Linked DNA regions of Homo sapiens. The protein of the gene in region 2 purifies or fractionates together with the protein of the main gene of each other region. This does not show direct contact. Each region holds a gene or a part of one and is shown on either strand. Other genes may lie near its edges.

Region 1 (16,050 bases), on a different chromosome or scaffold from region 2:
GGCTACTCAGGAGGCAGGAGGATAGCCTGAGCCCAGGAGTTCAAGGCTAAAGTTAACTGATCATGCCACTGTACTCCAGTCTGGGTGACAAAGAGAGACCCTGCCAAAAGAACACAAAAACCTCCACACAAAGGTAACTTCAGGTCCAGTTGCCTTCACTAGTAAATTCTACCAAGCTACTACTCATTCTACACAAACACTTTTAGATTCCTGCCCCATTCTATAAGACTGGAAGTACCCAAACATACCAAAAGATAACAAAACAAGACATGCACATTAAAAGAAAACTGCAGACCAATATCTTACATACACAAATATATGCAAAAATACTTCATAAAAAGGTGGCAGATCAAATACAATACCTGAAAAGAGTAAGACACCATTATCAAGTAGGGTTTGTAAAAAGGAATACAAAATTGCATTAAAAACAGAAAATCAATTAAGATAATTCAACATACATATGCCTTTATAATGCTTTGCTTGACCACGCTTCACAGATACTGTGTTTTTTACAAATTGAAGGAAGTCTATGGATGCCGTTTTTCCAACAGAATTTCTTCACTTGTGTCTCTCTCTCATTTCAGTAATTCTCGTAATGTTTCAACCTTTTTCATTACTGTCATATCTGTTACAGTGACCTATGATCAGTGATCTTTGATGTTAATAATGTAATTGTTTTGAGGCACCATGTTGTGTGTGTTCTGACTTCTCCATAAACCAGCAGTTCCCCCATTTCTCTCCCTCTCTTTGGGCCTCCCTATTCCCTGAGATGCAACAATACTGAAATTAGGCCATTTAATATCTTTACCACGGCCTTTAAGTGTTCAACACAAACCTCTCACTTTAAATAAAAAAACTAGAAATAATTAAACTTAGGGAGGAAGGCATGTCAAAGGCCAAGATAGGCTGAAAGTTGACCTCTTGCACTAAAGTTGACCAAGTTGTAAATGAGAAGGAAAAGTTCTTGAAGGAAATTACAAGTGAACCCATGACTGATAAGAAAGCAAAACAGACTTATTGTTAATATGGAGAAAGTTAGAGCGGTCTGGATAGATTAAACCAGTCATAACACTCCCTTAAGCCAAAACCTAATCTAAAGCATGGCCTTAACTCTCTTCAAGTGTGTGAAAGCTGAGAGAAGTCAGAAAACTGCAAAAGAAAAGTTGGAAGCTAGCAGAGGTTGGTTCATGAAGTTTAAAGAAAGAAGCCACCTCTGTAACATAAAAGTGCAAAGTAAAGCCACAAGTGTTGATGTATTATAGAAGATGCAGCAAGTTATTAATATCTAGAAGATCTTGCTAAGATCACTGATGAAGGTAACTATACTAAACAGATTTTCAATGTAGACAAAACATTCCAATAGACTTCTATTGGAAGAAGGTGCCATCTAGGACTTTCATAGCTAGAGTGAAGTCAATGCCTGGCTTCAAAGCTTTAAAGGATAGTGTGACTGTCTTGCAAGGGTTTAATGCAGCTAGTGACTTTAAGCGGAAGTCAATGCTCATTTACTATTCTGAAAAATCCTAGGGCCCTTAAGAATTAAGCTGAATCTACTGCCTGTGCTCTACAAATGGAGTAACAAAGCCTAGATGACAGCACATCTGTGTACAGAATGGTTTACTGAATATTTTATGCCCACTGTTGAGACCTACTGCTCAGAAAAAGAAAAAAAGATTTCTTTCAAAATATTACTGCTCACTGACAATGCACCTGTCACCCAAGAGCTTGATGGAGAAACACAGGAATATTAATGTTTTCATGCCTACTAACACATATCCATTTTGTAGCCTATGAATCAAGGAGTCATTTAGACTTTCAAGAAAATCTTATTATTTAAGAAACACATCTTGTAAGGCTATAGTTGCCACAGACAGTGATTCCTCTGATGGATCTGGGCAAAGTAAATTGAAAACCTTCTGGAAAGGATTCACCATTCTAGATGCCATTAAGAACATTCATGATTCATGGGAAGAGATCAAAATATCAACATAAACAAGAGTTTGGAAGAAGTTGATTCCAATGCTCATGGATGATGTGGAAAGTGTTAAAGGCTTCAGAAGAAGAAATTAACTGCAGATGTGGTAGAAATAGCAAGAGAACTAGAATTAGAAGTAGAGCCTGAAGATGTGACTGAACTGCTACACTCTCATGATAAAACTTGAATGGATGAGAAATTGCTTCTTATGAATGAGCAAATAAAGTGGTTTCTTGAGATGGAAACTGCTCCTGATGAAGATGCTGTGAACATTGTTGAAATGACAACAAAGGATTTAGAATATTACATAAACTTAGCTGATAAAGCAGCAGCAGGGTTTGAGAGGATTGACTCCAATTTTGAAAGAAGTTCTATTGTGGGTCAAATGCAATCAGACAGCATTGCACACCACAGATAAATCTTTTGTGAAAGGAAGAACTCATTGATGCAGCAAATTTCATTTTTGTCTTATTTTAAGAAACTGTCACAGCCACCCCAACTTTCAGCAATCACCATCCTTATCAGCCAGCAGCCATCAATACTGAGGCAAGACCCTTCACTAGCAAAAAGAGTATAACTCACTGAAGGCTCAGATGATCATTAGCATTTTTTAAGCAATAAAGCATTTTTTAAGTTAAGGTATATGCATTTTTTTTAAAGAAATAATGCCACTGTACCTTAAGAGGCTACAGTAAAGTGGAAAGATAACTTTTATATGCACATGCAAAGGAAATAAAATTTGTGACTTGCTTTATTGTGTCATTCACTTCACTGCAGTGGTCTGGAACCAAACCTGCAATATCTCCAAGATATGCCTATAATTAACAACTACTGCACAATCCAAAAAACCAGAGTGGAGAGATTATTTTTTAAACCAGGAAAACAGAAAAAAGAAAGAAGCAGGGAAAGACAAAGGGAGAAAGGTAGAGATTTCAGGTTGAAACTTTATGACTACCTTATTAAACTTTATCCTTCCCTTATCTCACAAAAGAAAATTTTTCTTTCTATAGCAAATAAGATAAGCTCAGCAAAGGGTGGATTTCAGTACAATCTCTACATGTCTGAGTAAAACATTCCTGTCCCTAGGTGATTACTTTTGCCTATCATCACTGGATCCTGCATGGGCAAAGAGGTAGTAGCAATTATTGGTTCCAAAATCACCTCTAATAAAATGAAATGTAAATACAGTGATGTTTCTAGACAAACAAAAAGCCTATTACAGAAATAAATAGAGCCTTACACTTTCTTAAAATACAGAAAATACTTAAAGATCATACTAAGTAATATACTAAAAATACTAAAAGTAGCTTTTGTATCCTCCATTACAAGAAGCTTGACAGAGACTCTTTTGATTCCCTAGATCTTCCTATTTAGCAGGCAGGAACTTCTTGTCCTTCTCTGCTATGTTTTTAATAGAGCAGAAGCCAAAAAACTCTGCACTGTTTACTTCCTTATTTGTCCAACAAATCATCATCAATGAGATCAGAAGCAAAGAGAACAACCCTGAAAGGAATGTTTATTAACTAACAGTGTTCCAGGCCAGTTTAGAAAGCCCATAGTATTCACAGTACAAAAACTATGATGTGGCTGTAAGTTTCAAGAATTGAGCAACTACTAATTTCTCTAAACTTGGTTCCTTTCTAGAGCCAAAGGATAAGTTAAGTCTCTGTAGATATCAAAACTGCACAAGATTTTTATCAGCTAATCTTAACCAACTGAGTACGTCACTAAAGAGACCTTTAAAATATAACTGTTTTTAGCTTATTAACTGTAGAGTTGCCTGTGGCTGTTGTTTTGCTTTCCCTTCACAAAATGGTATCAAATGCCTTACTGATAAATATCTGAAACAAACAAAAAAGCCCTAAAATTACCTATGCCTCCCTCATCTTATGAGGTTAAAAAAAACCCACAGAATTCACTCCTAGAAATGGCATATATATATATATATATATATTTTTTTTTTATTGGTAGCATTTTAAAGTCTGTTAAGAGATTAGTTATTTGTTTGTTTATACTCCAAAATATACTCAATTTCAAACATACCTATCATTTATTTGCAAGTATCATCATCAATCAAGTAAGCAATAACAATGCACAAGGCTTAGAAGCAGATTTGTCATATTTCAAAAAGTGGAGCTCAAAGCAATTCATTTTAAGTTAACTTTAAATTTATAAACTCAAGGCAGTACAAGTCTGGTTTTTTTTTAGCTACCCAATATCTGATAAATATGAATACCTAATAATAGACGATAATAACAGTGATAAAATTAAAATGAGAGCAAACCACTGAATAATCTATTATTTCTTATTTCTTCCTATAAAGGATGCACCAAATTCAATTCCACAAGTTTTATATTGTGCAACTATTCTGTTGTTTGTCACTATGAAAGTTACTGAGGAAGATTAAAAAAAAAAGTCATACTATAAGCAACAACAGAGTCCCTTTTTAGTTTAAATAACAAAACACATCAGACCTTAAAAATCCAAATGAGTGTTACCCTCCAAAGCCAATACCCTGGGAGATAATACAGATGTTCAACTATTCACATTTCTTTCAAAGCCAGACTACAGGTCACACAAGAAAATCAGCAATTATATAGCATTCACACCACAAGGAAGTTGTTTTCAATACAAATCTCCTTGTTCCTTATATATAATTGTTTACTAATAACATTTTTTATTATCTAGCCCCCCTTCTCCTCAAAACTACACTGTTAATGAATATTGGCTACCAATATCAAAATATTATTTCTGATACAGTTTAATGCTAGTTAATCATTTGTAAGTGCATGGTTTCCCAAGATGACAACTTAAATTTATATGTGAGTTCAAGTACATTTCAATTTTTTAAGTCTCATTACATCATGGATCTATTTTACATGAAAGAAGTCCCTAATCCAAAGAGATAACAATCTTTAACCGAGTAAAAAACCAAGAAAAAAAATTACAGTAATAACTGGCATAAGCCTATATTATTTTTGAGAAAAAGTTTCCCGTATGTACTTGAATTTACCCTAATAACCAATCTAAGTTTCATACCATTTACAGCCTTTTCAATCAACTCTTCGCAAGCATCAAAATCACCCTTCAACACCAGCTTGTCATGAATATCTGTTAACATGGGATGTTCCAGTGCAATCTTGGTTTTCTTTTGCAGTGACTCAAAAGCTTCTGTATAGTTGTGTTGTCTGAAGTGTTTTAGGCAAAGGCGAATAGCTTCCTGTTCACGGTACTACTAGAACACAGAGTAAGTATGGAAAGAAGAGATTTGGTTAGATGATACTGTAGGAAACAATAACAACAGTAAAAATAACTAATCTACACTGAGCATTTATTAACACTATGTGCCAAGCAGTTTACTAACCTGATTCATTAGGTATCATTATTTGGCTCTTTTAACTAGCAAAACTAAAGCTTGGCCTGTTCCAATAACTTGCTCAAGGTCACAAAATATGTAGCCAAAAGTTATTAAACCAAACCTAATTCCAGAGCCTCAACTTTGAAGAAAGGGAGAACATCTATTTCTTAAACTCCACTTAATACTGTAAAAATTATAACTCCATAGCATCTATTAATCCCATTACAATGCAGGTACTGAGAGCACAAAAGAACATTAAATAATCCACATAAATTATATTATGCTATTTTTGGTTTTTAAAAATAAACTATTACTTGAATGACAAGTATCAAGTATACAGATATTTCAAATTTACAAACACATTTTATGACTCAAAAATCATCAAAAAGAGACATTTAATCTTTTTTTTTTTCTTTCTTTTTTTGAGACAGGGTCTTGCTCTGTCTCCCAGGCTGGACTGTAGCGGCATAATCTCAGCTCACTGCAACCTCCGCCTCCCAGGTTCAAGCAATTCTGCCTCAGCCTCCTAAGTAGCTGAGCTTACAGGCACGCGCTACCACGCCCAGCTAATTTTTGTATTTTTAGTAGAGTCGGGGTTTCACCATGTTGGTCAGGATGGTCTTGAACTCCTGACCTCAGGCAATCTGCCCACTTTGGTCTCCCAAAGTGCTGGGATTACAGGTGTGAGCCACTGCGCCCGGCCCAATTTAATTGTTTTCTAAGCCTGAACTACCTCATCTATTAAGCAGCTATAAAGTAGACATCTCAATTAACTGGAATCCAAAAAGCAGGCACTTAATTTATTAAAATTTTCCCCTAATAGGATAGATGCCAAAAATACAATCTTATAAAAAGGATTTTTTTAAAAAAATCTCAACTTCAGGAATATGTTCTGGGACTACCTCAAACTTCCTAAGTATACCACTATTCAAACAAACAGATGACATGGAAGCCTGCATGATAATCAAACAACAATGATTTACTTATAGGCATGACCCTTTAATAAGGCAAGAAAATAATGTGTTTAGGAAGATGTATAAGATTTGAAACAAATCAGTTGATAGCTGACTTAACTAATAAAAGGTCATTAAACACCTAATCCTTACACGTTATAATTAACTATAATTAATTAACAACTTAATTATAATTAGTTAACTATAATTAACTTACTCTTGGCCTCTAAAAAAGACTTATCATAACTACCATGTAACAATATATATTACAGTTATATTAAACAGCAGTATTTTTTAACCCTGTTGACTACTTTAGGAGTCTAAATCACATCCACATCTTAAATTTTCCATTAGGCTGCAAAACTATCCCACTAAAAACTATGTTTTAAGTATTTATATGAATACAAGTGAAAAAACAAAATTCAGAGTCAAATGGGTATAATAACATAAAAGCAGACTGTGGAGCCAAACTGCCTGAATTCATATACTGGCTCAAACACTTTACAATTGTGTGATCCTAGGCAAACTATTTAATCTCTCTGTTCTTCATTTCTTCATCTATAAACTAATGGGGATAATAAGTGCACCTGTCTCATAGAGTGATAATGACTAAGTGAGTTATCAGGATTCCTTAAAAGCTGGCAGACTGGAAGTGCTTAATAAAATGTTAGCTAACTGTTGTTATTATTATTTTGAATATTTTAAATTATTCTCAATGAAGATAAGAGATTGACATATTTCTCCTTTTATAGGCATTAAAGTCAGGATTTAAAACACAGTCCTACCTTGCTATACCAGTTGAGACAAGGTTGTACTATATCAGGATCATCAATGCCACTAAGTTCAACATACCAGATGCTAAAGTTAAAGCTGGGTCCCCAGGACAAGAGTGGAACTTTAAGGAGAAAAAACAAAAAGAAGAAGAAAAATATTAACACAGTTCAAATAAAACTTTAGCAAAGTAAAAGCACTATTCAACCTTATAAGGATTCATTCAACGAATTTTCTGGGCATCTTTTATATGACTAGCATGGTGCTAAGGCTACAACAGTAAAACGAAACAGATGACCCATGCCACCATAAGATTTCCTTAGTTAATAAAAACACTGTAAGATAAATTAAAAATGTGCACATGTCTACCCCCAAATAAATGCCACCAGAATTAGATGATTTAACAGGTAAATTTTATCAAATGTACAAGCAGCAAAAAATTACTTTAGAATTTAGTCTACATCAGAACACTGAAAGAGACTGAAATTATTTATCAGTGGCACAACCCTGAAATCCAAATCAGAAGAAAAAAGACTTAAGGCCAATCACAGCTATGAATACATATTTAAATACAAATTAAAAGGAGAAAAGTTGCAAAAAATTCTATCAGATTTTCATTGTAACCAAACAGATCTCATTCCAGGAATGGAAAGATGATGGTTCAATAAATAATAGGAGCTATATTAATATAATCTACCACGTTAACAAAATAAAAGAAAAAACACATTTGATGACTTAAATACATTATTATTTTTAAACCCTCAATATATAAGCAATATAAGGCAATAAAAAATTTCCTTAGATTTTTTTAAAAAGCATCAAAAACCTTAAAAATTAAACCTACTGGGAAAATACTAAATATTCCCACTCAAGTCAGAACAAGACAAAGATGTCCAATATCTCTACTATTTGTCACTAATTAGAGGTCTCAACCAGTGCAATAAGGAAACAAACAAACAAATTAAGAAAAACGAATTGTAATTTAAAGATGACCTGTCTACCTAAAAAAATTCAAGAGAGCCAGGAGCAGTAGCTCAAGCCTGTAATCCCAGCACTTTGGGAGGCCGTGGCAAGAGGATCACTTGAGGCCAGGAATTCAAAACCAGCCTGGCAAACACAGTGAAACTCTGTCTCCACTAAAAATAGAAAAAATAGCCAGTCATGGTGGCGTGCGCCTATAATCCCAGCTACTTGGGAGGCTGTGGCAAGAGAATCACTTGAACCCAGGAGGTGGAGGTTGCAGTGAGCTGCCATGACACCACTGTACTCCAGCCTGGGCGACAGAATAAGACTGTGTCTCAGTGGAAAAAAATATATATATATATTCAATTGAAAAACTTTTTATTTGTAAACAAGGTAAACACACAAAAATCAACTTTTCCTATACCTACAATAACCAATTAGAAAATATACCTCAAAAAAGTCCTATTTATAATGGCAAAAAGCTGAAAATACTTCAGAATAAACTTAAAATACGCAATATTTATAAGAAAATATAAAATTTTAGTGAATAATTGAATAAATGAAAGAACATACTATGTTCCTATATAGGAAAACTCAATATTGTAAATGTGTAGCTCTCTCCAATTAATTATAAATTTAACATCATGTCAATCAAAATCCCAATGGTCTTTCCAGAGGTCCCACGTAGTCAAAACTACTTTTTTTTTTAATAACAACACTAGTTATTTTTCAAAACAACTATTTTTCAAAATAACATAATAAACACTTTTCTAGCCTTTTAATAATAGCAACATTGCACTAATGGTACAAAAGCAATGGTGTGTAAAACTGCTAGCACCTTGGTACCAAACTAATGGCACCAAAAAGTACTATTAGTGCTCAGTAAGTACAAGGTGCACTGTATGCCTCACCACCATACACTGGCAGTAAAATAAAATAAAATAAAATAAAATAAAATAAAATAAAATAAAATAAAAATAATTTTTACCAATGGCACAGAAAAATTAATTTTATTAAATTCCCATCAAGTACACATCTGTCTAGTATCCTGTGTGACAAAATGAGATTTGCATATAAAGCATTTTTGTTGTGTACCAAACCACAATGGTTATCTCAAGGAAAGGACCTGTACAATTATTTAAGTTGTGAGTTTAAAAATCAATTTATTTTTCATGGAATGCCATTTTATTCTTGAAAGAAAAACAGACAACCTATGATTATTCAGATTTGGGTATTTGCCAAACATTTACATGTTATTTCAAGGAAAATACTTAACGATATTTGCTGTCAAGGATAAAAACCAAGCTTTCAAGAGAAAAATTAGAATTTTGGAAGATAAGTACCCACCACTGTGAGCTTAACTGATTCCCAACACTTAGATTTTTTTAAATGAGATTAGATGTGATATTAATAAATGTGATTTTTAAAATATTACATAATGAAGTGTTTCAACATTTGGGAGATCTGTGTAATTCAGTGAACCATATTTTCTAAATAACCAATGAATGTTACAAAATCACACCTGGGTAAAAAGTCCAAGACAGACCACTGGGTAAAAAGTCCAAGATAGACCAGTGAATTTTAATGTAACAACAGATTCACTGATGCAGTTTCAGAATCAATAATGCAACTATCTTTAAGAAACTAACATTTGTAGAGTTTTGATGAAGCATCAAAATAGAATATCCAGAATAGCTGATACCAGGCGTAATGATTTCCAATATCCGACTGAATAAGGAAAATGTATGGGGTATGATACTTTTATATATTTTTGTCATCTAAAACAGGGGTCCCAAACCCCCAGGCCCAAACCTGTACAGGTCCCTGGCCTGTTAGGAACCCAGACGCATGGCAGGAGGTGCGCAGTGTGTTAAGGGAGCATTACTGCCTGGGCTCTGCCTCCTGTCAGATCAGCGTTGGCATTAGATTCTCAAAGGACTGCAAACTCTATCATGAACTGCAAATACAAGGGATCTAAGTTGTGCACTCCTTATGAGAATCTAATGCTTGATGATCTGAGATGGAAAAGTTTCATCCCAAAACCATCTCTCCACCATACCCTGCCCCAACTTCTGGGTCCACAGAAAAACTGTCTTCCACAAAACTGGTCGCTGGTGTCAAAAAGGTTGGGGACCACTGATATAAAGGAAGCTGTGTGAATAAAAACACAGGCAGTAGCAACCAGCCATAAGGATGTATGAAGGAATGCTGGGATATTTAATATGCCTTTCTGTTTATGTATGTAAACAACACACATTTCAAAAAGTTTTTTTTTAACAACAAATATTAAATTATCTTTATTGTTTTAGTGTTTCTTTATGTAGCAGTGTCATTTAAAAGTTTATCTACTAAATCACATAGCAATAACCATCTAGTAGTATAAGAGTCAGAATAAAATAATGATTCTAAACTAAAAGCACCAAGAATATAGTCTATATATGTCACCAGACATAAAATATTAGAGATTTCCAGGTCCAAGTCTCATTAAGAATTCATTTATTGGTCCTGGTGCAGTGGCTCATGTCTGTAATCCCAACACTTTGGGAGGCAGAAGCAAGAGGATCATTTGAGCCCAGGAGTTCAAGACCAGCCTGGAAATATAGTGAGACCCTATCTCTACAAAAAAAAATTAAAAATCAGCTGGGCATGATAGTATGTGCCTGTAGTCCTGGCTACTTGGGAGGCCAGATGAAGGATCACTTGAGCCCAGGAGTTCAGTGTTACAGTGAGCTATGACCACACTACTAAATTCTAGCCTAGGTAACCGAGAAAGACCCTGTCTCTTAAAAAACAAAACAAAACAAAACAAAACAAAAACCTTTTAAAACACTTGCAGTGAAATTTAATCTGTTACCCAATGGTCCAATAGAAATATTTCTAGAATAAAATTAGTTATAATTTTTAATACCTTTAAAGAATACCTTTAGAGGAAGGAGGTAAATCATGAAGTTATCTTGCCAATGGGCATATATATTACAGATGAATAAACAATATAATTAATTTTCAACAGACTAAAAGGGTATGTAAAAAATGAGCAGAATGATGTCCACTCACTTCAAACGCCAGTGATTTTTGGTAGCATTAACAATACTAATAATGCATATTAGAACACTAAGAAATCTAAAAGTGAATTAAAGCTCCAGGCACGTGTTCTTTGTTCCCTGATAAAAGATGCCTCCCTCATCAAATAAAAGAATTAGAAACTCCTAATACATATCCCAAGGCTAGCAGTTTGTATTCTAGGATTCAGTCATCAGTTTTCCCCATTGGACAATCAGACATGAATATAATCAACATCCCTGTGTCACCTTTTTTCATAAAATGGCCAGCCTGGGCAAGACAGCAAGACTCAGTTTCTACAAAAAAATTGTTTTTAAAATTAGCCAGGTGTGGTGGTGTGCTACTAGGGAGGCTGAGGCCGGAACATGGCTTGAGCCCAGGAACTGGAGGTTGCACTGAGCTCTAATTGTGCCACCTGAGCAACAGAGCAAGACTCTGCCTCTTAAAAAAAAAAAAAAAATTAGGCCAGGCGCAGTGGCTCACGCCTGTAATCCCAGCACTTTGGGAGGCCAAGGCGGGTGGATCGCCTCAGGTCGGGAGTTCAAGACCAGTCTGACCAACATGGAGAAACCCCGTCTCTACTAAAAATACAAAATTAGCCGGGCATGGTGGCGCATGCCTGTAATCACGGCTACTTAGGAGGCTGAGGCAGGAGAATCGCTTGAACCCAGGAGGCAGGAAGTTGTGGTGAGCCGAGATTGTGCCATTGCACTCCAGCCTAGGCAACAAGAGTGAAACTCCACCTCCCAAAAAAAAAAAAAAAAAGAGGTTCTGAGAGATCCTAAAAATTCAAGATTAACTATTCTGAAAGAGTGCATCTACTATTCTACTACAGATTTAATGACATAAGTATACTTAGCACAGTAACTGGCACATACTAAGTGTTCAATAAATGTTAGCTGTTATTATCTATTATTATTATATTAATTTTCCTCTTAATAGTATACTTCTAAAATGTCACTTTTCCACATGCTCTCCTAAAGGGCTTCCTGGAACTAATACCCAGACTTCATGCTCAGATTTCATGCTGCATCCAGCCAGAGTTAAAGCCGCTCTCTGAAGTCTCCACAATCATCCAGGCTGCAGCTGACTCCTTTACAAAAATCCACATCTCTCCATTTACCAAAAACCAAGACTCCCCCTGAATCCTTCCAAGACCCTGTACCTCTTTTTGCCCTCACCTACCCCTGATTTCCTCATACAGCTGTTATTGTGGCTATAAATCAGAATGTAAACCCTTTGAGCCATCTGTAACCAATACCCTCAACCCATTTTATGTTTACTTTCCTCTGATCTAATCTCCTGCTGAGCTTTCCCTTCCCAAACTTTAACTTGCCCTCTGGAATCCAGTCTCCCAATTAATAACTCACCTCTGTTACTAAATTTTCCTTTCACCTCTAGGTCTTATCTAAAACCAAGCTTCTTTCTAAGGCCAACTGTCCTTCTACACTAAGTCCCATCAAAGTCCCTAGAATACTACATGTAAGAAGGCATGTAAACACAAACTTTAAAAATATAAGTACGAAAATGTGCAAAAGAGATATCCAAAATGCAATCATTTCTTCCATAAATGTACTCTTAAATTAAAACCACAGATCCACAAACTGGAACAGAATTCAAGAAAATATCCAATATAGCTACCTATCCTACCATTAGACAGAAAAAGCATTAACATCCTCATTTTATACAAAAGGTAACTTAAGAAAGGAAAGTAAAACTTTCCTGAAGGAAGGCAGTCCAATGACATCAGTTCAGCTTTACTGGTACTCTGAATTATCCACAACAGATCTTAAAAGTTAACCCCTGCCACACAGTAGAAATGTGGGCTATTTTCCTTGTTAACAATTTATGACCAAACTTACTTCAATTTGCTTAATAAGCTACATTCATTATAAATGAAAATTATTATAGTTACATGTCAATAAACAATTTGGAGATTATCTGCCATTGTGTTAGCCTTGCTTCTGTTCCCCTCCATTACTGTGAATAATTGAAGGCTGACTAAATTGAGAAATTTTGCTGTTTAAGCATTAACTTGTTTTTTAAATAAAGCAAGATCTTTCAAACATGTCACTATAGAACACAGATGTAAAATACTCAAAGGCTTTTTTTAAGTCAAATTCTAACGATTTACCTAAATGAAATAAACGTCTGTGCTAAACTAACATCAAAAGAGAGCTATACATCATTCAAGTCCTTTACTGGAATAACTTTTGAAGAAAATATGACAAACTAAAAATATGACCTAACATACGGCCTTTTAGTTCCATATTTTCCTTATATTACTTAAAAAAAAAAGTTCTTAAGAGAATGCTTGGGAAAGGGTTGGGAAGCAAATACACTGCTGACCGGTATTAACATATTTTAAGAGAAAAGTAAGACATACTAAGTTATCTATATATTAATATCCTAAATAGAAAATGGGCTAATAAGTGTCTACTATTATTTGGAAAGCTCCAATTAACATTTTGCCTAAATACCATTAAACTAACCCTAGATCAAGTAAAAGACATCATTATGCCCTATAATTAAAAAGGTGATGAGAGAAATGCGTGGCTGTTGGTGAAAGGGTAAAAAGTTTCAGTCAAGCAGGAAGAATAAGTTCTGGAGATCTACTGTACAGCATGGTGACTATAGTAATAACTGAAAATTGCTCAGAGAGTAGATCTTAAATGTTCTCACCATAAAAAAATGTTAAGTATGTGAGGTGAGGGATATGTTAATTAGCTTGATTTAATAATTTCACAATGTATTCATATGTCAAAACATCACATTGTAAACCATAAATATATATAATTATTATTTGTCAATTATACCTTAGTAAAGCTGGGGGGAAATTTTTTAAGTGCACATATTCAAATACTCAGCAAAAAAGAAAAGAAAGGGGAAAAAAGGCTGACAGGGCTGGAAAAGGTTCCAATTTCCACTGCTTGTATACTTGCAACATAAAATCATAAAATTGTTAAAGCTATGCAAAGGTCTTTAGGAACTGATAACTCTAAATACTGATGAAAACATTACCCAGTGCAAAAGAAGTAAATAACCGAAAGTTAAATTTATTTTTAAAATTTGCTTGCTCATAAATTCTTATAAGAAAACAGAATATAGGTTTTAATTTATAAGTATTTATTATAACAACAGAAACTATAATTACTACAAAGTGACATACTGGAATCCAATTGTTCCAAAAACAGTTTCTGTATATAAGCAGTTTTTCTTAAGACCTCAAATATTCTTTTGCCCTACAGAACTGTTTGAGTCACAAAACAAAATGGCAGCAACTCTTGATAGATTGGCAAACAATGACTATGTTTGCTCCAAAAGAGTAATTATTCTCCCAAATCAAAATGTGGACTCTGGCTTTTATTATTATTCTTCAAAGTATCTAATTCACTTTAATCCCCATATCAATATAATATTTTCAAAAGTATGCAACATGGTTATAAATTAGAAGTATTTTTTTTTTGGTTTTTTTTTTGGAGATGGAGTCTCGCTCTGTCTCCCAGGCTGGAGTGCAGTGGCATGATCTTGGCTCACTGCAAACTCTGCCTCCTGGGTTCACAGCATTCTCCCACCTCAGCTTCCCGAGTAACTGGGACTACAGGCGCCTACCACCACGCCCAGCTAAATTTTTTTTTGTATTTTTAGTAGAGATGGGGTTTCACCATGTTAGCCAGGATTTAATTGCTCAATTTCCCTACCTTCTAAATAATAAATCCTATAGGAAACAAAATCACCTGAAAAATACTAATTTTGAGGATGCATTATAAATACTTTCTTAAGCTAAAATACTTGCTAAATAAATACATGCCTTAAGGTAATATTTTTCAAACAGTGATTTGCAACCTATCGATGGGTCATTAAATCAATTTAATGGGTTTGACCAGCATTTAACTAAAAAAAATAAATAAATAAAATAAAAGAACACAACTGATAATAACCATAATATACTGCCTTAAGGATTTTATCAGTATTTGGTTTTAGAATATTATTGTTTTAGTATAAGTGATAAACCTTCCATAAAATTAAGGCAATCAAATCACTAGATCCCATAAAATCTAAGAAAACTTTCAAATGAGAAAACATTTGGAAAAGATTCCACTTGAAATAACTGCCACTTAGTAATGAATTTATATAAAGCAGAAGTCAGCAAACTTCTCCTGTAAAGGACCAAAGAGTAAATTTAAGGGGCTCTGTGGTCTCTTGCAACTACTCAAGTCTACTTTTGTAGCACAAAAGCAGATACAGACAATATGTAAACAAACCAGCGCAGCAATATTCCCATAAAATTGTATTTAAAAAAACAAGAGGCCTGCAGGATTTGGTCTATGGGCTATAGTTTGCTGACTGATGATATCAAGAATTTGTTTCTATTTCAGAATGCTAAAATCTTACCTATTTTAATGAATCGACAAGGGAACATCTGTTCATCAATTTTATGCTTCAAGGTGAATGTTTCTTTGTTATAATCATTCTTTAAGCCACTGTGGGAAAAAAATAAGGCTATTAAATCTGACTTCATAATTTAGTAAATGCACTAGAACACGAATTAATGCACACTCAGGTTTTAAGTTTAAACTCATGCTCAAAATATTATGACCAAGACAATATAAACAAGTAGTTGAACATGGGCATATAGGTCAAAACCGGTACATTCAAATCAACAGCATTATAACTGGATTCTCTTAATTATACGAGGATTAATGAAAAATGTTCAGTATTATAAAGAATGTAGCTACGGTGTTTAAAAATGTGTGACAGGGCCTAGTGTCCTGAATGGATAACTGAATATAACATAAAATTTTCAACGGTAAGAATGAAATTCAAAAATAATTCACAGTCAAATCTGACAATTTAAAACCACATATTAGAATACGCCAAAGAATTTAGTTATTTAATTCTGACTGAGATGCCAATGTTTCTTTTATAGTTCAACAAATTTTCAAAGCCAACCTTACTCTGTTGGCTTA
Region 2 (16,050 bases):
CAGGTGATCCACCCGCCTTGGCCTCCCAAAGTGCGAGGATTACAGGTGTGAGCCACCGCACCCAGCCTAAAATACCTTTTATTTTGGCCAGGCATGGTGGCTCACGCCTGTAATCCCAGCACTTTGGGAGGCCGAGGTGGGAGGATCACCTGAGGTCAGGAGTTCAAGACCAACCTGACCAACATGGAGAAACCTCATCTCTACTAAAAATACAAAATTAGCCGGGCGTGGTGGCGCATGCCTGTAATCCCACCTACTCGGGAGGCTGAGGCAGGAGATTGCTTGAACCTGGAGGCGGAGTTTGCAGTAAGCCGAGATCACGCCATTGCACTCCAGCCTGGGCAATAAGAGTGAAACTCTGTCTCAAAAAAAAAAAAAAAAAAAAAAAGTAAATACTTTTTTCAGTGTTCTACATGTTCAGAGAAACTTCTAGTAATGAACTATACAAATGGTCCCTGAAGGTAGTCTTAGAATACCTTGATACATAGGGATACGTTTAATTCTGTCACATGAACTAAGAACAACTTATATGAGGAAAAACATATGAACTAAAAACAATTTATATGAGGAAAAACATATGTAAATCATGTCTGAATGTAAAAACCACACCGTGGAAAACGTAAGCAAGAAGCCATGTGCTGGCTTGGGTGCTTTGTTAATTGCTCTTTGTTCATGTGTTAATAAGTAGGCACCAATGATTTTAAAAAAGATTAATAAGACAAAAAGTTAACACCGTAAAAAGTCTACATTTCTCTGCATTTGTAGAAACCAACCAAGCACCCACCTCTCAGGCTACCTTGCCAAGCCCCTGGTGTCTGCCAGGAGCATGGTTATGAGAGTCACTGGCCTGGAAAACCACAGATTACAGTCCTAACATCAAGGACTGCAGAAGGCCCACGTTTTTCCTTCAGATCAGATGTAAGCCCCTCTTATTCTGCATCAAAAACCTCATTCTGATGGCTTTGCCACATCTACCAACCTGGCCTGCATGTAGTGTAGGACCTTCCTGAGAGAGGCTGCCACAGTAAAAGCCACTGGTGCAGAGGCTCCCAGGAAACAGAACGTCACCACCGCTGCAGGTGGCTCAGGAGGCCTGCTTTAGGATGACACCATGGAGGGGATCTGTTTCCTTAACAGTGAACTTAAAATATGATAAATCTAATACTGCCCCAAACCCACAACCCCCCTATCCTAACACTGTTGCTGGATTCTTCACATAAATATTTAAATACATAGACTGAAAAAATGAGAGAGGAGAAATTTTCCTAAATGTAAACCTAATTTTTAAGGTATAAGCTAACTTTTTTTTTTTTTTTTGGGGGGAGGGACAGAGTCTTGCTCTGTCGCCCAGACCGGAATGCAGTGGCACGATCTCGGCTCACTGCAACCTCTGCCTCCCGGGTTCAGGTGATTCTCCTGCCTCAGCCTCCCAAGTAGCTGGGATTACAGATGCATGCCACCACGCCTGTCTAATTTTTTGTATTTTTAGTAGAGACAGGGTTTCATGGTGTTAGCCAGGACGGTCTTGATCTCCTGACCTCATGATCCACCCGCCTCGGCCTCCCAAAGTGCTGGGATTACAGGCGTGAGCCACCGCACCCAGCCGGTATAAACTAACTTTTAATTATAATCTGTTCTAGGAAAGACTACTAAGGAAAAAAGTTCTCAATAAATCAGCACCTGCATTTGAGATTTTAAACTAGAAGCTATTTTTTTTTTTTTTGAGATGGAGTCTCGCTCTGTCGCCCAGGCTGGTGTGCAGTGGTACAACCTTGGCTCACTGCAACCTCCGCCTCCCGGGTTCAAGCAATTCTCTGTCTCAGCCTCCCGAGTAGCTGGGATTACAGGTATCCACCACCACGTGTGGCTAATTTTTGTATTTTCAGTAGAGACGGGTTTCACCATCTTGGCCAGGCTGGTCTTGAACTCCTAACCTCGTGATCCACCTGCCTCGGCCTCCCAAAGTGCTGGGATTACAGGCATCAGCCAACTACAAACTGTTTATATTATTTTTCCGAGTTTCAAGCTTTAATCTTTTTTCTGAACTTCCTTGAAAGGGATAGGATGAAATGATAAAGAGGTTTTAATACAAGGCCAAGCCTGGTGGCTCACACCTGTAATGCCAGCACTCTAGGGGGCCAAGACAGGAGGATCACTTGAGCCTAGGAGATCAAGATCAGCTTGGGCAACATAGTAAGACCCGGTCTCTATTTTTAAAAAAGGGAGGGGTGGGGAGGAGGTCCTAATATGATTAAAACACTTATGGTTTAAATCACTAGTTTTCTTAATGAATAATTCTGCATTGACTTCTTTGTAAACATACTTTAGGCAGTATATCAGGGTAACTACAGGGTACCCTCAAACTTTGAGAATTAAATAAAATAAATACCTAATAAATGAGATTCAGTGTGTACAGAAGTCACTGAAAAGATAAAATATTCTCAGAGCAGGAACAGGAAATTCAAGCACTTTATTACAGCCCAATGAGGGGTAATTTATAGAGCGGACGAAAAACCATGTCAGAAGAAAGGATATCGAGAAATGAATAACAGAGGCAGCAAAAGCAGGAGTGGGCATCCCTTGGTGGGTCTGGCTGTTGTCAGACATTTAAGTCCCCCAACTAATCCTCCCACTGATTCCAGGCTCACCCAAAACTGTGTGGTGATAGGTACCACGACTTTCCATGTAGACCTGTCTTCTGGAGGATTAACATTCAATTGGCCAATAAGTCAACAGGAACTTCTGGAACATACAGGAATCTCATTCTCTGACAAAAACTGGCACTTTTGTTTTTGTGAGTTTTGGTAGGTGTGACCTGTCTCCCTAGTTAAGCACAAGTCTAGCACAACTTCAGCTGGAGCTTCCAACCCTTCCAAACCCAAGTAATGAGTAAGTGGGGGGCCTGCCCATGGCCCCCAAAGGCTGGGCTCCCAGGTAACCCCTGAAAGCTGCTGGGTTCCCCGGAAAGGTCGCCTCTCTTGACTGACGGATGGCTCAAAAGTGCAAAAAGAATGTTATTTCATATTTATTCTTTACATTTCTAGAATTTCACTTCCAGAAGGCATGAAAACAAACTTTAAAGCTCCGTTTTGCAATGTGGCAATTCCTCAAAGAGTTAAAAACAGAACTATCATTCGACCCAGCAATCCCATTATTGGGTATACACCCAGAGGAGTATAAATCATTCTACTATAAAGATACATGCATGCAAATGTTCACTGTAGCACTATTCACAATAGTAAAAAGTGGGTCAACCTAAATGCCCATCAATGACAGATTGGATAAAGAAAACGTGGTATATATACACCAAGGAATACTATGAAGCCATAAAAAGAAATGAGATCATGTCTTTTGCGTGAACACGGGTAGAGCTAGAGGCCGTTATCCTTAGCAAACTAATGCAGGAACAGAAAACCAAATACTGCCCTTATAAGTAGGAGCTAAATGATGAGAACTCATGGGCTCAAAGAAGGAAACAATAGGCTCAAGCCTGTAATCCCAGCACTTTGGGAGGCTGAGGCAGGCAAATCACCTGAGGTCAAGAGTTCAAGACCAGCCTAGCCAACATGGTGAAACCCCATCTCTACCAAAAGTACAAAAAAAAATTTAGCCTGGTGTGGTGGTACATGCTACCTGGGAAGCTGAGCAGGAGAACTGCTTGAACCTGGGAGGCAGAGGTTGCAGTGAGCAGATATTGCACCACTGCACTCAAGCCTGGGCAACAGAGCGAGACTTCATCTCAAAAAAAAAAAGAAGGGAAGAACAGACAATGGGGCCTACTTGAGGGTAGAGGGTAGGAGAAGGGAGAGGAGCAGAAGAAATAACTATTCAGTACTAGGCTTAATACCTGGGTGACAAAATAATCTCCACAACAGTTACATAGGTAAACCGTGACATAAGTTTATCTATAGATCAAACCTGCGCATGTACACCCAAGCCTAAAATAAAAATTAAAACAAACAAACAAAAAAGCTGTGCTTGTTTGTGAATGTGAGGTAGCTAAGAGGCCATTTAGCTCCTTTTTTTTTTTTTTGACACTTATCTCCTTTTTTTTTTTTTTTTGACACGAAGTCTCACTCTGTTGCCGAGGTTGGAGTCCAGTGGCATGATCTGAACTCACCACAAACTCTGCCTCCTGGGTTCAAGCGATTCTCTTGCCTCAGCCTCCTGAGTAGCTGGGATTACAGGTGCCCGCCACCATGTCCAGCTAATTTTTGTATTTTTAGTAGAGATGGGGTTTCACCATGTTGTCCAAGCTGGTCTCAAACTCCTGACCTCAGGCGATCCAGCTGCCTCAGCCTCCCAAAGTGCTGGGATTACAGGCATGAGCCACTGTGCCTGGCCTATCTCCATTTTAGTAGATACTTTTCCATACTGTATACGTGAGGAAGGCAACTACTATGACTAAAACCCAAATTATAGTTTAATTAAAATAAATTAAAAATTTGATATTTTTGCCAGGCACGGTGGCTCATGCTTGTAGTCCCAGCACTTTGGGAGGCCAAGGTGGGTGGTTCATCTGAGGTCAGGAGTTCAAGACCAGCCTGGCCAACATGGTAAAACCCCATTTCTACTAAAAATATAAAAATTAGCCAGGTGTGGTGGCACATGCCTGTAATTCCAGCTACTCGGGAGGCTGAGGCATGGGAATTGCTTGAACCTGGGAGGTGGAAGTTGCAGTGAGCTGAGATCACACAACTGCACTCCAGCCCGGGTGACAGAGCAAGACTCTTCCTCAAAAACAAAAAATAAAAATAAAAAATTGATATTTTAACAAACATAAATGGAAAAGAAAAAAAACCCAAATACAGGTACAAAATTTATTCAAAGATTCATTGTAGTTTTCTGCATTTTACTATTATCTACGGCAACCATATACTAGACTTATAATTTTAAAAGTTATCAGGCTGGGTGCGTTGGCTCACGCCTGTAATCCCAACACTTTGGGAGGCCAAGGAGGGTGGACATTTGAGGTCAGGAGTTCGAGACCAGTCTGGCCAACATGGCGAAACCCTGTCTCTACTAAAAATAAAAGTTAGTTGGGCAGGGTGGCGCACGCCTGTAATCCCAGCTACTCGGGAGGCTGAGGCAGGAGAATCGCTTGAACTTGGGAGGCAGAGGTTGTGGTAAGGTGAGATCACACCACTGCACTCCAGCCTGGGTGACTGAGACTCTGTCTCAAAAAAAAAAAGTTATCGGCCAGGCGTGGTGGCTCACACATGTAATCCCAGCGCTATGGGAGGCCGAGACAGGCGGATCATGAGGTCAGGAGATCGAGACCATCCTGGCTAACACGGTGAAACCCCATCTCTACTAAAAATACAAAAAAATTAGCCGGGTGTGGTGGCGGGCACCTGTAGTCCCAGCTACTCGGGAGGCTGAGGCAGGAGAATGGCGTGAACCCAGGAGGCGGAGCTTGCAGTGAGCCGAGATTGCACCACTGCACTCCAGCCTGGGTGACTGAGCGAGACTCCATCTCAAAAAAAAAAAAAAGTTATCACATAGTTGCACAACTTTGTGAATACACTAAAAACCAATGAACTGTATACTTCAAATGGGTGAAATGTATGGTATGTGAATTATCTCAATAAAGCTACTAAAAAACATTATTTAAAAAGAATTCTTCTACATCTAAGGCCTGAGCAGGACTTGCTTTAACGCAACACCCCTGCAGCAGCATAACGTGGTCTATTTATTGCTGGACCAGGAACAGGCAACTCTGGGGAGGGTATGTGCTCATCGAGGCCACGCCATCTGCAGAGGTTCTGTTAAGAGCCTAGGGCTCCCCTTGGGTTAGCCCCCATTGAAGGGCCATTGTCAGTGCCCCCTCCTCAAAGGAGCCTGACTGCTGCTCTCGACTCACGGGGGCTTCCTAAAGGAAGGGCTACTTGTTCCCGATGGAGAGCTCAATGCCATTAGCATTTCTGTATACTTCTTCAAGATTTCGAATGCTACTTACCATTTCTGTGCAGCTTGTTATCACCCAAATGACTGGTTTTGGAGTCAGCGTTAACATTCCAATGCCTTACACACTTGCTGGTTTCCTTATGAAATTCAGTGTTTATGTTCTGCACCCAGTTAACTAATGTATTTGGCTACCTGAGAGTTGAGCATATTCTGTTTTAGTATCTTTTCTCCTACCACAAACCCAAAGGCTGGAATCCTGTATTTTGCTATCACTTCTACTCCTACTTGATTTGATACAATTCTCGAGTTAAAGAAGAAATACCTTTGGTCTCAACAACAAACTTCATAGGAGATCCTTAATCAGTTAAGCTTCTAATAGAAAAGCAGATAGGAACCAGGAGCCAGAAACTTGTCTTAAGACTGAGGCTCATCAGGACTTTACAAGAGAATCACATATTAGTACCATATTTGAGTCTGTCATTTTCTCTAACATTCTTTCCTTACCCCCAGAACAAGTCCACTGATTGTCTTAGACAGAGCAGGGATTTTTTTTTTTTTTTTTTTTTTTGAGACAAAGTTTCGCTCTTGTTGCTCAGGCTGGAGCGCAATGGTGCAATCTTGGCTCACTGCAACCTCCGCCTCCCGGGTTCAAGCGATCCTCCTGCCTCAGCCTCCTGAGTAGCTGGAATTACAGGTGCCTGCCAACATGCCCAGCTAATTTTTATATTTTTAGTAAAGATGGGGTTTCACCATGTTGACCAGGCTGGTCTTGAACTCCTGACCTCAGGTGATCCATCCACCTCAGCCTCCCAAAGTGCTGGGATTACAGGTGTGAGCCACCACGCCCGACCCCAATTTTTTTTTTTTTTAAAGAGAGAGGATCTTCCTAGGTTGCCCAGGCTGGAGTGCAGTGGCTATTCACAGGCATGATCACAGCACATTGCTGCCTTCAAATCCTAGCCTCAAGCGATACTCCAGCCTCAGTCTTCTGAGTAGCTAGGACTACAGGCACACAACACCATGCCTGGCTAATTTATTAAAAATTATTTGTAGCGACAAGGTCTTGCTATGCTGTCCAGGCTGGTCTTGAATTCCTGGCCCCAAGTGATCCTCCTGCTTTGACCTCCCAAAATGTTGGGATTACAGGTGTGAGCCACAGCACCCAGCCTGGAGCAGGAATTTTTAATTCTCAACTTCGCAGATGAGGACACTGAAAGAAGTTAAAGGTCACAGATGCAGGAAGGGGCAGAAGAAGAATGCCACCCCAGCTCCTTTCCACTGCCCCATCCAGCACAGCACTCTGTCCAAATACTGCTGGATCATCAGACCATGAGAGCTGACAAAGGCCAGAGGCCCCCTGCAGCTAGGTCCAGCCTGGGCATTCCCAGCATTCGGAGGGCCAGTCCAGCTACCTCCTTCCACTTCCTGTTTCCTTGCTAATGGAAAAGAAAGGATGCTCCTCCTTGCTTTCTAAAGTCCCAGGAGTTCTGAGGTTTAAAAACTTGGTTCAAAGAAAATAAAATACTCTGCACAGCAGGTACTTCTGCTGGAAACTAGATGGTCACTTCCCCTTTTTTTTCTTTCTTTTTTTTTTTTTTTGAGACAGGGTCTTGCTCTGTTGCCCAGGTTGGAGTGCATGGTGATCTTGGCTCACTGCAACCTCTGCCTCTCTGGTTCAAGTGATTCTCTGTGCCTCAGACTCCCAAGTACCTGGAACTACAGGTCTGTGCCACCATGCCCGGCTAATTTTTTTTTTTTATGTTTAGTAGAGATGGGGTTTCACCATGTTGGCCAGGCTGGTCTCCCTACCTCAAGTGATCTGCACACCTCAGGCTCCCAAAGTGTTGCGATTACAGGCATGAGCCACCGCGACCAGTCAGTAACTTTTCATTGTTCCAATTAACTAAGAGGCTTAAAGAACTTAAAAGCTCATTTTTTATAGGACTGATGCTTATCTCAGAAACTGTTAAACTTATGATGAGGGTGGCAGCTATATTCTTATTATTTTTTCCCCCAAAAAGGATTAAAAATAAAATCAATAGTGTTGGTTGTGACAATTATGATGTACTTATAAACTTTTCTTTAAAACATTTGTGAATCTGTACACTTCTCAACAGGACACACTGAAACTGCCTGTTTTATGTTCCCTATACAGTAGCAATGCTCAGGAGTAGTCTGCTTTAATTAGGCCTCAAGGAGTTGAGACCGCCTGCCCTGAACCCCAATGAGCCTGTGGAGCACACCACAGACTTTCTAGTGCTGGTTTGTGTGAGCAAGTGCTTACCTCAGTAAGGCCTTTAATCTTCAAGTACCCACAAAGGTAAGAGTTCCCCGTGTCCACGTGCTGAAAAGAAAGGATACACAGCCTGTCACAAATAGATAAACTTACTAGGGGACATGCAGGAGGGTACTCTGCAAATCCTGTGAGGCCAGACTGGTGGTCAGTGAACACCCAGGGCAGTCCAAGGCTCACCCAGTCTCTGGAATCTTGATAAGTTCTCCCCACACACATGCCTGTTCTGCCAAAGCAAACTGATCCCAAGACCCTCTCAACTTTCTTCAGCTGAATATCATGAGACTGAAGTGTCTTTCTGAAATGGGGTGCCCACTCAAATTCATTTTCTGTACTATCTTCAACACACGTCTCCCGGTCATCTAGAGACCTTGAGCATTGCTGGGCACAGGGCCTCTGTCTCTGCCTGTACACGTGGTGTCATCCCTAACCTCAGGCTTGACTTTCTTTCTAATGTCTTTCAAGCCTTTTTCTATTTCTGTATTGCTCAATCATTGGTCTAGGAGGTCTGCTCCTCTTCTAGTTTTTACACTAAACATCATCCTGCATTATCTCTTTATGAAATGGGCAGACTGTTCAGAAATGGCATCTTATAAAGATTTATGTGGTATAAACTTCAGTTATGAACCAAAATGCCAACCAAAAGTCTGACTATATTGTGAATGTTCACTCTGTGCATTTTATATATGGATGCTGTGTTTCTTAATGAAAAGAGTCAGGAGCCTAAAATAAATAGAAATAACAGGCATAGTAGACTTTGAGGTTTAGCAGTCACCAATTACTGGTTGCTGAGACACTGCCGGATGCCTACCCAACAAACAATTTCCTCCTTTTTCACGCTGGCAGGGTCCAGTTTTTGCTCTGGTACCTACCTACCACGTAAGACTTGGTCAACCTGATGGATCTAAGGCACACAGGTGTCCCTATCCCCTTGCAAGTCATGTATTTAGGGGTGAGTGACCCATTTCTGGCTCATCAGATGTGTAAGTCTCCTGAGTGCATCTGTGAAAAATCCCTGGCTTTTGAAGAGGCGCATGAGGAAGAAATGGCTTTTTTGTCCCCTAGTGGTGACAGTATCCGCATGGAGTGTCCAGTCCTGGGGGAGACATCTAGACCACAGGGGAGAAACAGGCCAGGAAATGCTGAGGATGGTAGTTAGAAAGATGGAAAAAACTGGGCCCATCGTAGGCCTCTGAATTAACCAACCTGAAGCCACGTCACCTCAAAAATCCTCCTGATGTGAGATTTCACCCAAATCTATACAGACTCATTCTGAATAGGGAGTTTCAGATTTCATGACAATTGGATTCACTTACAAGGTAAATCCTTGAATTAAAGCAAACCAAGTACAAGGGTACCTGTGGTACACTGAGATTTTAATGTTAAGTGAGGTCTTATTTCAAGAAATTAGAATAGTTTTGTGGCATTTATCAGATTTGTGAACCTGATTACTTCCAATTATACCATAAATCAAATACTAAGCCATGCTTAAAAACTGTAATGAACTTAGTCAACCAGATGATGTCAGCACCAAAGCAAATGAACTTCAATGAAGCCAAAGTGCCTTCACAGTTTGGTGCTGGTGACAAAGGTATTCCCTGTGAAAACTGCCAAAGCATTTTAAATATCCTCATCTGCTGACCTTGGCACTGGACATTATCTAAAACAGCTAATCCACGCTAACATGGTTCAGCAAAGAACTTTTATTAAAGGACACATAATTCTAACCTGAGTCTTTAAATTTCATGTATGCAATTCTCATTGAATTCAATATAGTTTGGAGTTTCACAGCTGCTGAAAAGTGTATCAGGTGGCAAGGATACTTGCTAATAAGATTAAAAATTGAAATGTAAATTGGCTAACATTTTGCATGGATTATCACATGCTCAAGAATCAGAATTTCAGCTTGGCCTCCATTCAACCAAGCGTCTCTCTACTCTGCCCAAATTGATCTTGATAATGGTTGGTGAACTCAAATACACCACAACGCATACAGCTTTTACCAAACGGCAGGCGAGCATCTCAAGAAAGATAACAGGGCACGTGTTTAGCAAGAAGGTGTCACAGCACAGCTGTGTCCAACGGCTGTTCTTTTAAATATTCCTTTCACAGCGACCAGGGCTCCCTTCTACTGCTGGCTTCTTAGATGGCAGAGGAGGAAAGAGGAGTCACAGTAAGTGCGGGGTGGAGAGGAGACCCAGTCAGAAACTCACAAAGGTTTGAGGAACTCTTTACACTAGAATCACAGAAAAGAAAGTACTCCAAAACAACAACAACAACAAAAACACAAGAAAAGATGCACAACAGCACAGTCATTATAGAAATTCAAATCAAGACTACAGTGAGAGACCACTTCAAAAACACTAGGATGGCTACAACAAAAAAGATGAACAGTGAGTGTTGGCGGGGATGTGGAGAAACTGGAACCCTCACCCACTGCTGGTGGAAATGTAAAACAATGCAGGGCCAGTTTCTCAAAATGTTAAAACCCAGTTACCATGTGACCCAGCAATTGCACTCCCAGGTAGTTATCTACCAAAGTGAAATATACATCCACATAAAAACTTGTACATAAATGTTCATAGCAGTATTATTCATAGTAGCCAGAAGTGGAAACAACCCAAATGTCCATCAACTGATCACTGTATAAACAAAATGTTGTATATCCATTCAATGGACAATTGTTACAATGAACAATGCAAAATAAAAAGGAATATAAGTGCTGATACATATTACCATATGGATGAACCTTGAGGACATTATGCTAAGTGAAGGAAGCCAATCTCAAAAGGACAAATACTATGTGATTATATGAAATGTCCAGAATAGACAAACAACAACAAAAATAGATGAGCAGTTGCCTAGGATTGGAGTGGGGGTTATGGCTAAGGGTTACATACAAGGTTTCCTTTTGGGGTGATGAAAATATTCTAAAATTAGGTTGTGGTGGTGGTTAAACAACTGTGAATATACTAAAAACTATTGAATTGTACACCTTAAATAAGTGAATTCTATCTAAATAAAGATACAAAAAGAAAGAAAGAAAACAAAACAAAACAAACAAAAAGAAGCTGAGTTATAAAAGGCAGAAGTATTTTAAGTCTAAGAAGGCTGTGTCTGACAAACTAGTCCTGGCTGAAAAACCAGATGATGGGGCAATTCACATGCCACTGACTAGTCGTGATGATGACCAAGCAGCTCACCAATCCAGATGTAGGGCAGCATTCATTGGCATGACCACCACCCCCACCATCAGACATCTTACTCAAGTGGCTCCCAGCCATCCACCAGGTTTCTGCTCTGGGCTGCCTGAGACCTATCAGCCCTGCCCCAACTCAACCACTGCTTCCCCTGGTTCATGATTCTCCTTCTGAAAGGAGCTCAGAAGTGATACCCTAATGACAGAAGGGAGCAGCAGTTGCTGCAGTAGCCAAAGCAGACTCCCCTTTGACGCCTGGCTATCTTGCCAATTGTCCCCTACTACATCAGAAACCATCAAACTGAACAACAGGGACAAATCCAAGATCATCCCAAACGTGACCCACCCAGGGATCTCACCTCCAGAATTCTATGACTAGGTGCAAAACAAACCGAAAAACCCCTGTACCTTCATACTCGACTCTCACATTTTAAGAAGAGGATCACTACATTAGGCATACAGTTATGAAGACAAAAATATTTCAGCCACAATCGTATTTCCATTATAATAACTATCGTGGCTCATGATAGAACTTTACAGCCCAAAGATATGATTAACATGACGATGCTGTTTCAAGTAAGCAGAGAAAATGATTTATTCCCACAAAGCAGTATGAGAATAAAAGAGTGATGAGTGCTCCGCAGTTAGCAGAAAGAAAAGGCACCCTCATTGTCTTTTGGATGGGAGACCTACTCTTCAGAAGTGAAACTAAGATTTGTTTTAAATGACCAAAAGGAGAGCTTGAGGAATAAATATACTGTACATTCCACCCTCACACCCCGGGGGGTGGGGCGGGGGGGAGGCAGTGGGGCAGCACACAGTGCCTTTCAGAGGGACAGGTGTTTGGAGGGGCTTCTGGGAACAGCCTGGCAGATGAGGTGTCAGACTAAGGAAAAAAAGGGCAAAGGGAAGGGGAAAGGGGTCCTTAGTCAGGCAGGGGTAGGTATAGAGGAGGAAGAGTTTTGTGGGGAGGGGAGATAAAAGAGTATTCACCACTGCCACTCCATTTCAGCTGGCAAAAAGTGTCAAGCCTGAGAGGAGTGAGGTGTGGGAAAGGCCCAGACAAGTGAAGCTGTACTTCCGAAGCTGATCAGGGACTGGCAGCAGGTATTCAGGAATCCAGGTCAAATGGGGGGAGGCGACTGGACATGAACTAAAATTGGGTGAGTTAGATTTCCCAGTACATGGGTACCAGAGACTAAGAGGAAGCCCTGTGCCTGTGTAGAGAAAAGTTAAGAACAGGAAAGAGGGTCCCCTGGAACCAGGATCGAGCAAGACGAAGGTATGGGGTGGGGAAGTCTGGATAGAGGCCAGGAAGACTGGGAAAAGACTGCAAATGGTCCCAGAGCAGGGGCAGGAGGCCTGGGGGTGGAGAAGCTGGAAGGAGCTGGGTGCCTGGACCATGAAGAGACAGAAGCAGTGAGTGGAACAGGGGACCCAGGAGGCAACATCCCAACAGACTGTGAGCAGCACTCAGGGAGTGAGTGCCTGGTCTTGAGGTGAGGCCAGGGCCTGACCAATCAGTTGCGGGTTAGGTGCTCCCCCGTCTGGGGGTCTGATGAAGCCCTCCTAAGGAGATCTCAGGAGGAGGAAGACCCCAAGGTCTGCGGATTCCTGGAACTGAGGAAGGGGCAGGAGGACATGTCTCAGGTCTGAGAGAATCTGACGTGGGCCCAGACATGGGGAGGGTCCCAAGTCTGGTGAAACCAATGGAGAGTTCTTCAGGGTCTGAAAAGGGCTGGTGGCAGTCCCTGATCTAGGGACGACAGGTCATGGGGAGGAAGGACCCAGGCCTTCTCCGAGTCATGAGGGGCTTCCGGATCCCAGACGGGCCGGTCACGGGCTTCAAGTCTGGGAGTGTTCGGGGTCCGCCAGGAGCCGGTCACGACGGGCTCTGGGTCCGAAGGGGCAGGTCAGGGCTGGGGCTCGGAGAGTGTGAGACACAGGCTGGGAAGGTCCCGGGTGGGAAGCGCCGGGTGCAGGAGGCCCCGGCGGCGAGGGCCTGTTCCGCGGCTGCGGGGTCGAGGAGCCGAAGCGGGCACGGCCCGTGAGCGCCGCGAGGAGGCCCTCGGGCCCCGGCCCGGCCCGGCGCTCACCTGCAGCACCACCTCTACGTCGTACGAGTTCCCCTTGCTCTTCTGGTGGCCGCGGAACTTGGAGCCGCTGTAGAGCAGGCTGGTGGCCACGCCGGGCTGCTGGGTGTTGATGGGCGGCGGCGGGATGAGTGAGGCCGCGGAGGCAGCGGAGGCACCGGCCGGCGGGGGACACTCGGTGCGGACCGGCATCGCGGGGTCCCCCGGAGCCAGGGCTGGGGGGAGTGGGAGAGGAACCGCCGCCGCCGCGCGGGAGCCGAGGAGGGTGGCGGGGAGGGAGAGGCCGGGGCGCGCACGCGCGGGGTGGGGGCGGGAGGGGCGACCACCCGCCCGCTGCCTGCGGAGCAAGCGCTCCGGCCGCCACCGGGACCCAGGGACCTGCGAGCAGGGCCTCCCAGTCCTGAGCTGGGTCCCCCTCCCGACTTGCCCTCGCGCACACATACACACACACAGACACTCACAGACACACAACACACAAACACACACAGACACACACACACCCCGCCCCTTCCGATTGGCTCAGGCGAGCCTGGGGGGCGGGAGCAGGCTCAGGCGGCGCTTCCGCCCATTGGCGGGAGGAGAAAACACGTGGCGCGGTGCGCGAGCGGCCCGCTGGGACTTGTAGTCTCCTCGCCGAGGCGCGGCGTGGAGGGGGCGGGGCGAGGTGCGTTTGTGATGCTGATTGACTGGGGGTGTGCGCAGGAGGCGCGCGGCGGCGACGGCGCGCCGTAGGTGTCATGCGGAAGATGGCGGCGTCCAAGGGAGGTTGAGGGCTCTGAGGAGGCGTTGAGAGGTTTCCGTACAGCCCGACCGTGCGGCTTTGGGGATCCCATCGCTCTGTGTTTCCTGCTCCAGGTTTCGCGTCTCGCATCTTCCCAGACCCTCGGGCGCGATGTGGAGGAGCTGCCTCCGGCTGCGGGACGGGGGACGCCGTCTCCTGAATCGGCCGGCGGGTGGCCCCAGCGCTTCTATGAGTCCGGGGCCAACCATCCCGTCTCCAGCCCGGGCTTACGCCCCGCCGACAGGTAAGACCATGACATGTTCTTTTGGGTTGGGGCCGAGCTGGGGTAAGGTGGGCTTCGGGCTTCGGCTGTGCAAAGCGAAGTAACTGAGGCAGGGTTCAGGCTCATGAGGTTATGCAGGCCAGTCAGGTCTTTTTACAGATGAGAAAGTGAAGCCCAGACAAGGGCAGACGACCCGAGAGGGAACAGCGAGTCACGCACGATACAGTAATTGATATTTGGCCTGTGCAGGTTTTCTCAAAGCTTATGGCTGCCCTCCCTTTAATAAGGAAAGCAGGTGTCATCTTTGTTTTCAAAAGGGGAAGTTTGGGCTCTGAATCAGGACTTCGTCTGGGTTACAGGCAGACTCTCTCAGAGGTTTGTGGTGTCTGTCTGACTGTTTTCCGTGTCTCCACTGCCCAACACAAGACCTGCCCAGAAGGGACCTAGAACCTGGGCCTTCATTCCTCCATCCCGGGCACTTCTGCTGCAGGTTTCCTGACTTTCCCTCCTACCACAACCTCTGCCATCTGCAGCCTTCTCTCCTAAATAGAAATTGACACCTCCACCTCTGACTGTGGAGTCACCTCCACCTCCAACTCTGATGAAGCTTAGAAGTAGTGGCTCTTTCATTGCTGATGGTGAGTGGTGTCAGGGTAAGAGTGAGAATGACTCATTTCAGTGAATGAAGAGCAGTAACACCCTCCCACCATTCAATTAGTTTTATTGTGCTGGAGGCAGGAGGCACGGTTGTCTTTAAGACCCACCTGTATGTATTGGTAGAGAAGCTCAATTAAAGAAGAAAAAGGCCCACCTGAATGATGTTCACTGTTCATTGCAAAAGGTTATAATATTCTGATTAAATTGTGGTTTATAATATCCTGATAAGGGACATACAAAGAAACTGTGAGAACACAGAGAATCGCTTACTCCCATCTTGGGGATGTTCAGGGTTTAGAATGGGTCTTGGGTGAAAGGGCGTTTGTTTAAGCTGAGCCATGATAGATGAGTAGGAGTTCAGCAAAAAGGTGGGAGAGTGTTGGGTATCTAGAACGTGTCCAGGGTGACAGCAAGGTATGAGGGACTTTTCCCTGACACTGCCTGTTTTAGAAAATCCAGAACTTCACAGGCAGTTTGGCATTGTGGCAGGAGTGCAAATCTAGGATCTGATGCTGGCTGAACCTCTGAGGTCTGTGTGATCTTGGGCATGCAACTACTTCCTCATTTTTCTCCATGCGTTGAAGTACTAGGTTGCCTTTGAGGATCTTTCTGGCTGTCAAGTTCTTTTTTTTTCTTCTTCTTCTGTTTTTTTGTGTTTTTTTGAGACGGAGTCTCCTCTGTCACAGAGGCTGGAGTGCAGTGGCACCATCTCGGCTCACTGCAACCTCCGCCTCCCAGATTCAAGCGATTTTGTGGTCTCAGCCTCCCAAGTAGGTGGGACTACAGGCGTCTGCCACCATGCCCTGCTAATTTTTGTATTTTTAGTAGAGATGGGGTTTATATTGACTAGGCTGGTCTCGAACTCCTGACTTTGTGACCCGCCCACCTCGGCCTCCC

What was found.
Region 1: the proteins of GID4 (region 2) and MKLN1 purify together in Homo sapiens (affinity purification with western blotting; 2 studies listed by BioGRID and IntAct, with this or other methods). This does not show direct contact.

Annotation. Positions count from the first base shown.
Region 1 is NC_000007.14:131,388,398-131,404,447, reverse strand, and holds part of MKLN1 (muskelin), read right to left. Parts: intron 15,565-16,050; coding exon 15,476-15,564; intron 7,182-15,475; coding exon 7,072-7,181; intron 5,211-7,071; exon of another isoform or gene 5,208-5,210; coding exon 5,015-5,207; intron 1-5,014. UniProt on the Homo sapiens protein: Component of the CTLH E3 ubiquitin-protein ligase complex that selectively accepts ubiquitin from UBE2H and mediates ubiquitination and subsequent proteasomal degradation of the transcription factor HBP1.
Region 2 is NC_000017.11:18,037,348-18,053,397, reverse strand, and holds the start of GID4 (glucose-induced degradation protein 4 homolog), read right to left. Parts: upstream 13,991-16,050; 5' UTR 13,934-13,990; coding exon 13,496-13,933; intron 8,252-13,495; coding exon 8,192-8,251; intron 1-8,191. Other genes in the region: ATPAF2 (ATP synthase mitochondrial F1 complex assembly factor 2), read left to right, coding at 14,385-14,517.